Regions from separate parts of the Homo sapiens genome. Here region 1 is linked to region 2. Evidence: fine-mapped expression QTL. A gene starts in region 2. The other region holds a variant in brackets. All regions are shown on one strand. Distances are between the middles of the regions.

Evidence for each region. PIP is the estimated chance that this variant, and not a neighbour inherited with it, causes the effect.
Region 1: its variant is the best candidate, but not a certain one, in a credible set for the expression of SIK2 in whole blood (INTERVAL, PIP 0.72).

Annotation. Positions count from the first base shown.
Region 1 is chr11:111,620,917-111,626,301 of GRCh38, reverse strand. The region is part of intron 3 of SIK2 (salt inducible kinase 2); the gene reads right to left. Among named protein-coding and RNA genes, the nearest start is that of SIK2, 21 kb to the right of the region's middle. The variant T/A (reference allele first, on the strand shown) is at 2,079.
Region 2 is chr11:111,599,863-111,605,247 of GRCh38, reverse strand. It overlaps SIK2 (salt inducible kinase 2), which reads right to left and starts at 2,799. Exons shown (of 15, transcript NM_015191.3): 1 at 2,550-2,799. The coding sequence starts at 2,684. RefSeq lists silencers at 2,034-2,193, 2,744-3,183 and an enhancer at 3,274-3,413.

The DNA.
Region 1 (5,385 bases), 21 kb before region 2:
CTCCACATCTCCTTTAAATTCAGCTTCTTCCCTTCCAAACTAGTGAAGACTATCCAAAGATTTCATGATCTTTTTAAATTAATTCTATTACTCATTATCTTCAATGGTCAAGAAATTAACTGTACCCAAGAGTGGAAAATAAGATAATAGCATTCACTGTCCAACTTTTCTGTGGACATCAGATTCTTCTTTCCAGAACTCCAATTGACCATTTACCCTAGAGATTTTACTTTAAATATAAACCTTATACATTTAAAAATCCCCAAATTATGTCTCAATGTGTATAAAACAATGTAATCCAAATTTGTTTCAAAGATCTTAGCAAGAAAGAACAATTTAGACTATCCTATTTTCATAGAAATGATGCCTAACATGTAACAGCTATTTCTACTTTACTTGTAAAACTACAGTCCAAAGCTTTAAAAATGTTCCAATGGGCAAAGGCTTAAAAATCCTTCTCTTGACTCATTGCCTCTACCTACTACCTCATTTCTTTTTTCCCTTTTTGCAGCAGAACTCCTTGAAAGGGTTGTCTATTTTGCTCTCTCCATTTTTCTTCTCTCATTTGCTCTGTAAGCCCCTTCAATCTAGCTTTTGGCCCAGTCACTCCACCAAAACTGCTCTTACCAAACTGCAGTATACAATGGTCAACTGTCATTCCTCATCATTTTTGATCTATCGGCATCATTTGTCACAGATGTTCACTTGATCCTTCTGAGAATACTTTGGTCACTTGGTTTCTAGGATACCACATTCTCTTGGTTTTCTTCCTCCTCTGTCTCTTCTGCTAGTTTCTCCTCTTTTCTAAATCTTTTAATGTTTAAATGCCTCAGGGATCAGATCTTGGCCTCTTCCATAATTATACCTATTACTTAGGTAGTCTCCACCTGTCGAGAAGTCCTACTGATTGTACTTCAAAATATATTCTGAGTTTGACCACTTAGGACTACCTGTACTGCTACTCCCCGGTCTGGGCTGTCAACACCCCTCACTGGAACTACTCCAACAGCTTCCTACCTGGTTTCCCTGTCTCCACCCTTTCCCATTCTCAACACAGCAGCCAGAGTGATGCTTTTAAAATGATACATTAGATGCAGTCACTTCTGTGCTGAAATCCAGCCGAAAATGGTTCCCTAATTTTATTCATGTAAGAGTCAAAATCCTTCTAATGGCCTACACAATGCCCCCAAATCTGCCCTACTCCTGCCTCTCATTTACCCTCTGACCTCCTCTTCTACTGTTCTTCCTCCTTGCTCTTCTCTCTTGCTTGCTCCTCTTGAGCCATACTGGCCTCCCTGTTACCCCTTGGACACACCAAGCACACTGCTGCCTCAGGGATTTGCATTTATTCTTCCCTCTCCCTGGGTAATCTCTGTTCTACCATATCGACATGACTGTGCTTTAAAGTCTGTGCTCAAATGCCAGCGAGGCCTTCTCTGACCACTCTATTTAATGTTGCAATCAACTCCCATGCCTCCCAACCAACCAGCCTCTGACCACTCTATTTAATTTTGCAATCAACTCCCATGCCTCCCAACCAACCAGCCTTGCTTTATTATTTACATAGCACTCATCACTATCTAATCTACTACATAATTCAGCTATTTTGTTTCTCTCTCCCAAACTAGAATGTAAAAGAGTAGAGATTTTTGTCTATTTTCTTCATTGCAGTTTTCTTACCACATAACAGTGTGTGACAAGTAATTGGTTTTCAATAAGGATTTCTTGAAAGACTGAATAAATGAATGAATAAGTGAATGTAAGAAATAGGAAAGAAAGGCAAGAAAAATAAAATGAATAAAGAGGAAAAAGGGAAGAAAAGGAAAGAAACCTGCCCAAAGTAATGTTAACAATTAATATGGTATAGCCGGCATTGTAAATCAGATTTGCTTAGCTTCAAAGCCCATAACAGCCTATTATAGCATCAGTCAAGATGCTGCTAGCTAAAACAAATATTTTAAGAATTAAAATAAGCTTATTAAGTAGTAGCATATAAAAGAAAAAATTAAGCAAAAGAGGGAAACAGACAACTTTTCTGAAATACAATGAGTTTAGTCAGAACTATTTATTTAGAATCC[T/A]ACTGCAAATAGTGTATTTTTCAAAACTATAGAAGTGCATATGGTTCTTTCTCTTTAAAATACCTTAAATTAATAACACATTTGAAAGGACTAAATAATTCTGCTTTTGGCTAAGATAGATTTGTCCTCCAGCCTGAAACAACCTTCCCATCTTCAACAACAAAAATACAAAATACATGAGAGAATGGTTTATAAGACACTGGACATCAGGCAAAGGAAAGTGAACCCTGAGCAACAGGTGACAAATGAGGCGAGACCATGAATGTTCCAACTAATGCCTTGAGAGAATCTCTACGCCACAGCACAGGGAGGGGAAACCCAGGTGTGGCCCAGCAATGTCTTTGAGTTGAGTAGACAATGCTGAGAGTCCCAGATAAGAGTGAGCTACACACAGAAAGAAGTCCAAAGGTCTGCAGAGGGATCCGTCCCTTGAGCACTCAGGAGAGTGCTGATTGGCTCACGTGTGAGGGAAAACCACCAGAGGCCAGAGAAAAAACCATCTGAGAGGCTGAGAGAGAACACTGCCTGGTGCTTACACAAAGCCAGGAATGGTGCCTGTTCCTACTTGTCAGGCCAAAAAACCTCAGCATTCATGGGGCATTGAGTAGAGTACTCAGAAGTGGGAAGTAACTAGACCCAGACTGAGCACTGTTTCAATTATGAAGGCAAGACCCAAATGGATCAAACTGTTTCCAAGTAGGCTTAACTGCATCCCAGAACAAAGTTCAAGAAAACCTAAAGTAACACAAAAATATGTGGTGCTCAAGGTAAAATTGGCAATGTCTAGCATCCAATCAAAGACTACCAGACATGTAATGAAATAGGAAAATGTAACCAAAACTGAGGAGAAACATCAACCAATCAAAACCAACCTAGAACTGACAGAGATGCTGGAAATCAGCAGACATGGACATTAAAAATTATCATAACTGGATTCTAGATGTTCAGAAAGATCAGTAAAGACATGGAAGGCATTAAAAAACAGTCCTAGTCAAGTTTATAGAAAAGAATACTACAATGTCTGAGATGACAAATACACTGGATGGGATTAATGGCAGAAGAAAAGATTCGTGAATTTAAAGACAGAAATAGCAACTACTCAACATGAAATAGAAAAAAAGGAATTTTTTAAAAATGGAAAAGAGCATCAGTGAGCTGTGGGGCAATTTCAAACAGTTTAATATACATTTGACTGGAATATCTGAAGGAGAAGAGAGGGGGTGGAAGAGAAAAATTAGTTAGAAAATAATGGCTGAAAAATATCCAAATTTGATGAAAAGAGTATAGTCACAGATCCAAAAAGCTCAATGAACACCAAACATAAGAATCATGAAGAAAACCACACAAAGGCTCATCATAATGAAATTGTTGAAACCAGTGGTAAATAGAAAGCCTTAAAAGCAGCCAGAGAAAAAAGGCACATTATATACACAGGAATAAAGAAAAAGATAACAGTGGTTTTTTTGTCAGAAACAGTGCAAATGGGAAGACAGTGAAGCAACATATTTAAAGTACTGAAAGAAAAAAAGTCCATTTAGAATTCTATACCTAGTACAAATATCTTTCAAAAACAAAGACAAAAATAAAGACTACTTTAGACATATAAAAGCTGAAATATTTCATCACCAGCAGATCTGTGCTACAAGAAACACTAAAGAAAATCCTTCAGACGCCGGGTGCGGTGGCTCACGCCTGTAATCCCAGCACTTTGGGAGGCTGAGGCGGGCGGATCACGATGTCAGGTGATCGAGACCATCCTGGCTAACACGGTGAAACCCCGTCTCTACTAAAATACAAAAAATTAGCCGGGTGTGGTGGTGGGTGCCTGTAGGACCAGTTATTTGGGAGGCTGAGGCAGGAGAATGGCGTGAACCTGGGAGGCGGAGCTTGCAGTGAGCTGAGATCGTGCCACTGCACTCCAGCCTGGGCGACAGAGCAAGACTCTGCCTCAAAAAAAAAAAAAAAAAAAAAAAAAAGAAAAGAAAATCCTTCAGACAAAAGAAAAATGACATTAGATAAAAATATATACATACATATGAATGCAGAAATGGTAGCTGCATTGATAAATAGATGCAATTTTCAAAAAATATGGAAATCTCTTGAAAAGATAATTGTTTAAAGAAAAAGGTAGCTACACTGATAGATAATTTTCAAAAAATGTGGAAATCTCTTTAAAAGATAATTGTTTAAAGAAAAATAGCACTGTATTATGTTTTATAAAATACGTTTAAGTAAAATATGACAACAAGAACATAAAGGCCAGGAGGGGCAAAAGAGAAGTACACTGATGTAAGGTTTTTTTTTTTTAATTGAGATGAAATCTCACTCTGTTGCCCAGGCTAAAGTACAGTGGTGCGGTCGTGGCTCACTGCAGCCTCCGCCTCCGAGTTCAAGTGACTCTCCTGCCTCAGCCTGCCTAGTAGCTGGGATTACAGGCATGCACTACCACACCTAGCTAATTTTTGTATTTTTAGTAGGGAGGGGTTTCACCATGTTGGCCAGGCTGGTCTTGAACTCCTGACCTCAGGTGATCCACCCACCTTGACCTCCTAAAAGTGCTGGGATTACAGGTGTGAGCCACTGTGCCCAGCCAAGGTTCTTATATTATATGCGAAGTGGTAAGTATTACCTGAAGGTAGACTGTGTAGACTTGTATACGAATGTACATAGTAACTTATGTATAATAGCCAAAAACTGAAACCAACCCAAATGTCTATCAATAGATAGATGAATGAATAAGCAAACTGGGGTATATTCATATAATATAATACTACTTGCAATAAAAAGAAATTATATGTTGATATATACAATAAAATGGGATGAATCCCAAAATAATTATAGTAAAGGAAAGAAGCTAGACCAAAAAAAGAATATATCCTGTATGATTACATTTGAGTATATCCTGTATAATTCCATTTATATAAAACTCCAAAAGATACAAACTGATCCATAATGACAAAAAACAGGTCAGTGGTTTTTTGGGTGTCAGATGGGGCAAAAGAGTTACAAAGAGGGCACAAAGAAACTTCTGGAAGTGATGGATATTTTGACTGTGGTGACTGTTTCACAAACGTGTATCAAAACATTAAATTGTACGCATTAAATACGTGTAATTTACTACATATGAATTATTCTTCAATAAAGCTGCTTAAAAAACAATTTTGGACTTTAAGAACAAAAAAGATTTAGATACCTACAGTGCTCTGGTTCCACACAGTAAAAATAAACAGATATTTTAGGTGAAAGCTAGAATAAAATATTTAAATTTTTTTTAAAGTTCGAATGAATCATAAACACCAATCAAATA
Region 2 (5,385 bases):
CTCACGCCTGTAATCCCAGCACTTTGTGGGGCCAAGGCGTGTGGATCACTTGAGGTCAGGAGTTCGAAACCAGCCTGGCCAACACTGTGAAACCCCGTCTCTACTAAAAACACACAAATTAGCCGGGCATGGTGGTGAGCGCCTGTAATCCCAGCTACTTGGGAGGGTGAGGCAGGAGAATCGCTCGAACCCAGGAGGCAGAGGTTGCAGTGAGCCGAGATCGCACCACTGCACTCCAGCCAGCCTGGGCAACAAGAGCGAGGCTCCGTCTCAAAAAAAAAAAAAAAAAATTCAGAGCAACTTTACAACCTAGAGATCCAGAGAACTTTTCTGTTCAAAGATTGCTTTGACATTTCACTTATCCCTCTCTACCTTAATATCTCCAATCACACCCACCAAATTACCACAGATACCCTCACCCATCTCAAATTCACACTATTTCTTTTTATATGTTAATAACAGCTTCTTTAGAAAAGCACAGGGAAATGGGTTCTGCGGACTAAACATTTAGCTTTTAACGTAAATCATTTTACACATATATACTACACACACGATTTAGGATCTAAGTCCTCTTTCACGATCTGACCGGTGCTTGTTCCAATTACAAATGAATGCATTGATCTCACTCTGATAGCCAAACCACGGTATTACTCCATAGTGCCCCCTAGCTCTTTAAGATATATTAGTTTAAAACGGACACCATTTGAATTGTCAACCTCAAAGTGTCAATCACTCCACTTAAGCAGCTCTTACTGTATTAACTAAATTTGACCTGATAAATAATAGATGACTTAATTAAATCTTGCTATTAATCCCAGTAAGAGCTGATGAGAAAAAAATATTAAGAACTGATGGATTTGGAATTCAACCACACGATATACTACAGTTCAAAAGTTTTGTAGAACCTCTCTATAACTCACAATTTGTTTGTTTTTAGAAAGTCATTAAGCAAGGACTCATAAAACATGCATTTAAAATGCCTTCTTTTATGTAACTTAAAGGGAAATGGCATGGCATAGGCCATGGCTCTTCAGAGGAATGGAACCAATTTCTTCATTTTAAAAAATGCTGGGATCAGATTAAGATTTAACAATATCACTATAGTCAAGTTATCATTATCATTACAAACAATCTAAATTGCTAACTGGTAAATCTGTGAGAAGAAAATATCTGACCTTGGTCCTGATTCTAAAAGATAAGTCAGATTTGGACTGGTTCAGGACCAGCAGGGGAAGGCAAAAAGTAAAGAAGACAGAATGACATATACCCCTTCCTTTTGGAAACGGGATTAAGCAAAACTTCTAAGTACAACTGCAACTCCAAAAATCACTCACGTTTGCAAGTGCCCTTCGCCTTACATAAGTCATTCTGAAAAGAAGTCCTACTTTATTCTACACTCAAACTCCAGTACATTCGTACTAACAAGGGAAAAAGCAGAATAGGACCAAAACTGGAGGGCAAACAAACAGGAAAAGGATGAAACTCCAGGAGGAACTACAATAAGGCAGAGTAGAGTACGTCAAAACCACTAGGTTTTATTCTAAAGAATGGTTTTGTTTCTACCGTTCTTCTAAGGTATTTAATTTGCACGTCTTAAAATAGAGACCCTGAGGAGAGCAGCTTGAGGCAGTGGAAGGAAGGGGGGCGGGTTAGGTAAGAACAGAGACTTGTGAGAGAGTATGTGCGGTGCATTAGAATGTGCAATGAAGAGGGTGCAGGATTCACCGTCAGGAAGCAGTTGAGGGCTTTATGAGTAGAGGCAGAATCTGATATGGTTTAAAGAATGCGTATTACAGCCAGAATGCACACCTGGTACAGTGACAACCCTAGACAAGTAGAAGACCAATCCACCCACCGTGCAAATGCAGAGATGACCATTTTAACCAGTTCTATTGTCTGGGGCATTAAATGGAAATGCCCCAGGCAAGAGATCAAGCTAGCCAGACACCAAATCAGAGACACCCTGGGCCAAAAGGAAGGAGAGGAGATGGACAGTGGCCGTGGGGGTATTCCCAGCCATGGGGCCCTTCCTCGTCGGGCAGGGGAGGGGCGCCGGGGTCACGGGGGCCGCACGATCCCCCATCCGCGGAGCCCAAGCGCAGGCGGTCCCCTCCTCGGGCCGGCGACGTCTCTCACGGCGCAGCCTGGGAACACCGAGACTTCCCCTCCCACCCCACCCCCAGCCGAAAGCAGGGAAGACGCGGAACTTGGGCTCCGGAGCGGAGGCCACAGACCAGGTCACGGCCCGGGTGGGGGGCTCTGGGCGAAATTCCGGGTGGCCACCGGGGGTGGCGTAGGGGAAAGCAAAGCCCCGGCTGGTTGCGTTTCCAGTCGGACGACACTCGGGTCCGGGTGCCCGGGCCCGATCCCTTCGCTGCTCACCGACCCCCTGCACCTCCTGGGTCCTCACAGTCCCAGGCCCGCTCGCCTCCGCCAGTGAGGCGGCCTCTCGGGTCTCCCCGGTCCCACCACTGCGGCCGCCCCTCTCGGTAAGCAGCTCCTCTCCCGAACCCTCGCCTCGGACGCTCCCGCCGAGCCCCGGGCCGCACCTCCGTCTTGGTGATCCGGTGCCGCCCCAGCTTCACCACAGCGAAGTTGCCCTTGCCCAGCGTGCCCTCGATGTCGTAGAACCCCACCCGGACCGGCCCGCGCTGCAAGTGCCTCGGGCCATCCGCCATGACCATGCTGGGCCCCGCTGCTAGACACGGCGGACAGGAGCGCGGGCGGGCGGGAGGGTTGGCAGCGCGGCTTGGCTTGGGCGACGGCCGCTCCGCTTGCTCCTTCGCTCCTTCGCTCCTTCCCTCCCGCTCCCCAGGGCCCAGCCAGGCGCGCGCCGCCGCTGACGTGCGCCGACGTCAGGGGGCCGGGGCAGGGGGGCGGGGGCGGGCCCGAGCCTGGATTGGTCACCATGGCGACCGAAGCACCGCCGACGTCGGCTGCTGGAGAGTGGGGGACGGCGCACGGGGAGGGGCGCGAGCCTGGCCGGCGCGCTCCTTCCGGGCTCAGACGCCCTCCCCTCGCCCCTCCGCCTCACCGCTGCCAGGGGCGGGGTCGCTGCTCGGCCCGCTCCGTTCCTCGGCCTTCCAGGCGAAGGGCAAGAGCGAGCCCTGGCGGACCGTGCGGAGGGGTGCAGAGACCTGGATGCGGCCTGCGATCTCCTTCCCCGCCCCGGCGTTCTCCGCCCACCCGGGGTCCTTCCCGCCAAAACCTCTCACCTACAAGTACAGCGCGTCCTAAATTTGGCACCGGCAAAGAACTGTGGCTGAGCAATGCGTTGCTCACAGGCTCCTTTCTTTGTGTCCTTTTCTCTTCTCGTTGCTATATATAATAAAACCCTCCACGTTTTGATGTCTCCGAGGAGTCATTCTGACAGCAGTGCAGTCGCTTATAGACTCACAGAATGTCAATGTCAGCGCTGAAGAGATCTTGGAGATCACTTAATCCAGAGATTTGGAGCCTCATGTGAGCTTCAGAGTTTGGAACCCCCTAAAACACAGGCCAGTTTTTGCTTATGTGAGCATGTCTCTGGGGAGATGGACCCGTAGCTTCTGTCAGATTCCCAAACGCGTTGGTGACTCTGAAAAAGTTTAGAAATATTTCTCTAATCCAATTTTTTTCCCCAAAGGACGAAGAAGACCTCAAGGAATAAAGGGAATTGCCTAGGTCACACAGGCAATAGTCGAGGTAGGATTATAAATCACACCACGCTTCCAAATGTGACTCAAGGAAACAGGGACAGTGACACCTCACTATTTTGAGATGTATCATATGCCTTTATATCTTGGTTTCTAAATACCATTCTCCACCTAAAGGAGCCAGACTCCGTGGCGAGATGGCTCATTCGAGGGCAGAGACAGGGAAAGTATAAAATGCCCTTGAAAGATCCTGCTCCTTAAAGCAAGGAGATTTCTTGGCTATGTCAAGGAAGATATGTCAAAAGAAAGCAGATGGCTCGAAGGTGCTCCCCCCTTACCAAATCTGAGACAGTTTGAGTATCAGGAATAAATAATGGGCCGGGCTTAGTGGCTTACGCCTGTAATCCCAGCACTTTGGGAGGCTGAGGCGGGTGGATCACCTGAGGTCAGGAGTTCAAGACTAGCCTGTGTGAAACCCCATCTCTACTAAAAATGCAAAAATTAGCCGGGCGTGGTAGTGGGCGCCTATAATCCCAGCTACTCGGGAGGCTGAGGCAGGGAGAATTGCTTGAACCAGGGAAGCAGAGGTTGCAGTGAGCCGAGATCGTGCCACTGCACTCCAGCCTGGGCGACAGAGCGAGACTCTGTCTCAGTAAATAAATAAATAAATAAATAAATATAGAAATTGATTCTAACACATTGAATTTTTTAAAAGAATCGTAGAGCATACTTACTTTTAAACAGAAAAATAAAGAGGGGAGAAGTGAAATGACGGTGGAATGCCAACTAATATATGTTAGAAGAAATGACAATTAGCAAATCATTTGGCAGCCATTACAGTAATAATGGATTCAGACAATTATCAATAGATGTTAAAATCATTGAATAAAATTTGGCTGGGGAACAAGATATTTGCACAGTCTTTGGATTTCTTATTCATGATAAAGGGTTAACAAGGGTACCTCTACAGTGGAGAAATCTGACCGACACTACCCTAACCAAATGATCAAAGTTAATGTCACCAATTATGTGATAAAATGACATGATGTGCCTCCAGATGTGAGGCACTGAGGTTACAATATCTCTTAAGTAGTATTCCTGTCAAAAATGCATATTATGATCTAGAAACATCAGAAAGATGCAAACTAAGAAACATTCTACTCAACAACTGACCTGTATCCTTAAAAAACATCAGTGTCATGAAAGTCAAAGAAAGGCTGAGGAACCATTCTAGATTTAAGGGATTTAAAAAGGCATGGCACTAAAGGCAACATGTGGTCTTGAAAAAACATGCTATAAAGGAATATTTCAGAACAACTACTGAAATTTGAATATGGATTACATATTAGATAAGATACTGTTTCAGTGTTAAACTTCTTGAATTTTATAATTGTACTGTGATTATAAGAGAGAGTATCCGTTATTAGGAGATACACACTAAACAATTAGGTATAAAATTTTTGGCCGGGCGTGGTGGCTCACACCTGTAATCCCAACACTTTGGCAGGCCGAGGTGGGCATATCACTTGAGGTCAGGAGTTCAAGACCAGCCTGGGTGGTGGTGCGCCTGTAATCCTAGCTACTCTGGAGGCTGAGGTGGGAGAATCGCTTGAACCTGGGAGGCGGAGGTTGCAGTGAGCCAAGATCATACCACTGCACTCTAGCCTGGGTGACAGAGTGAGACTCTAACAAAAAACAACAAAAAAAAACCTTTTGATATATGCAACTTACTGTCAAGTAGTTTAGCACA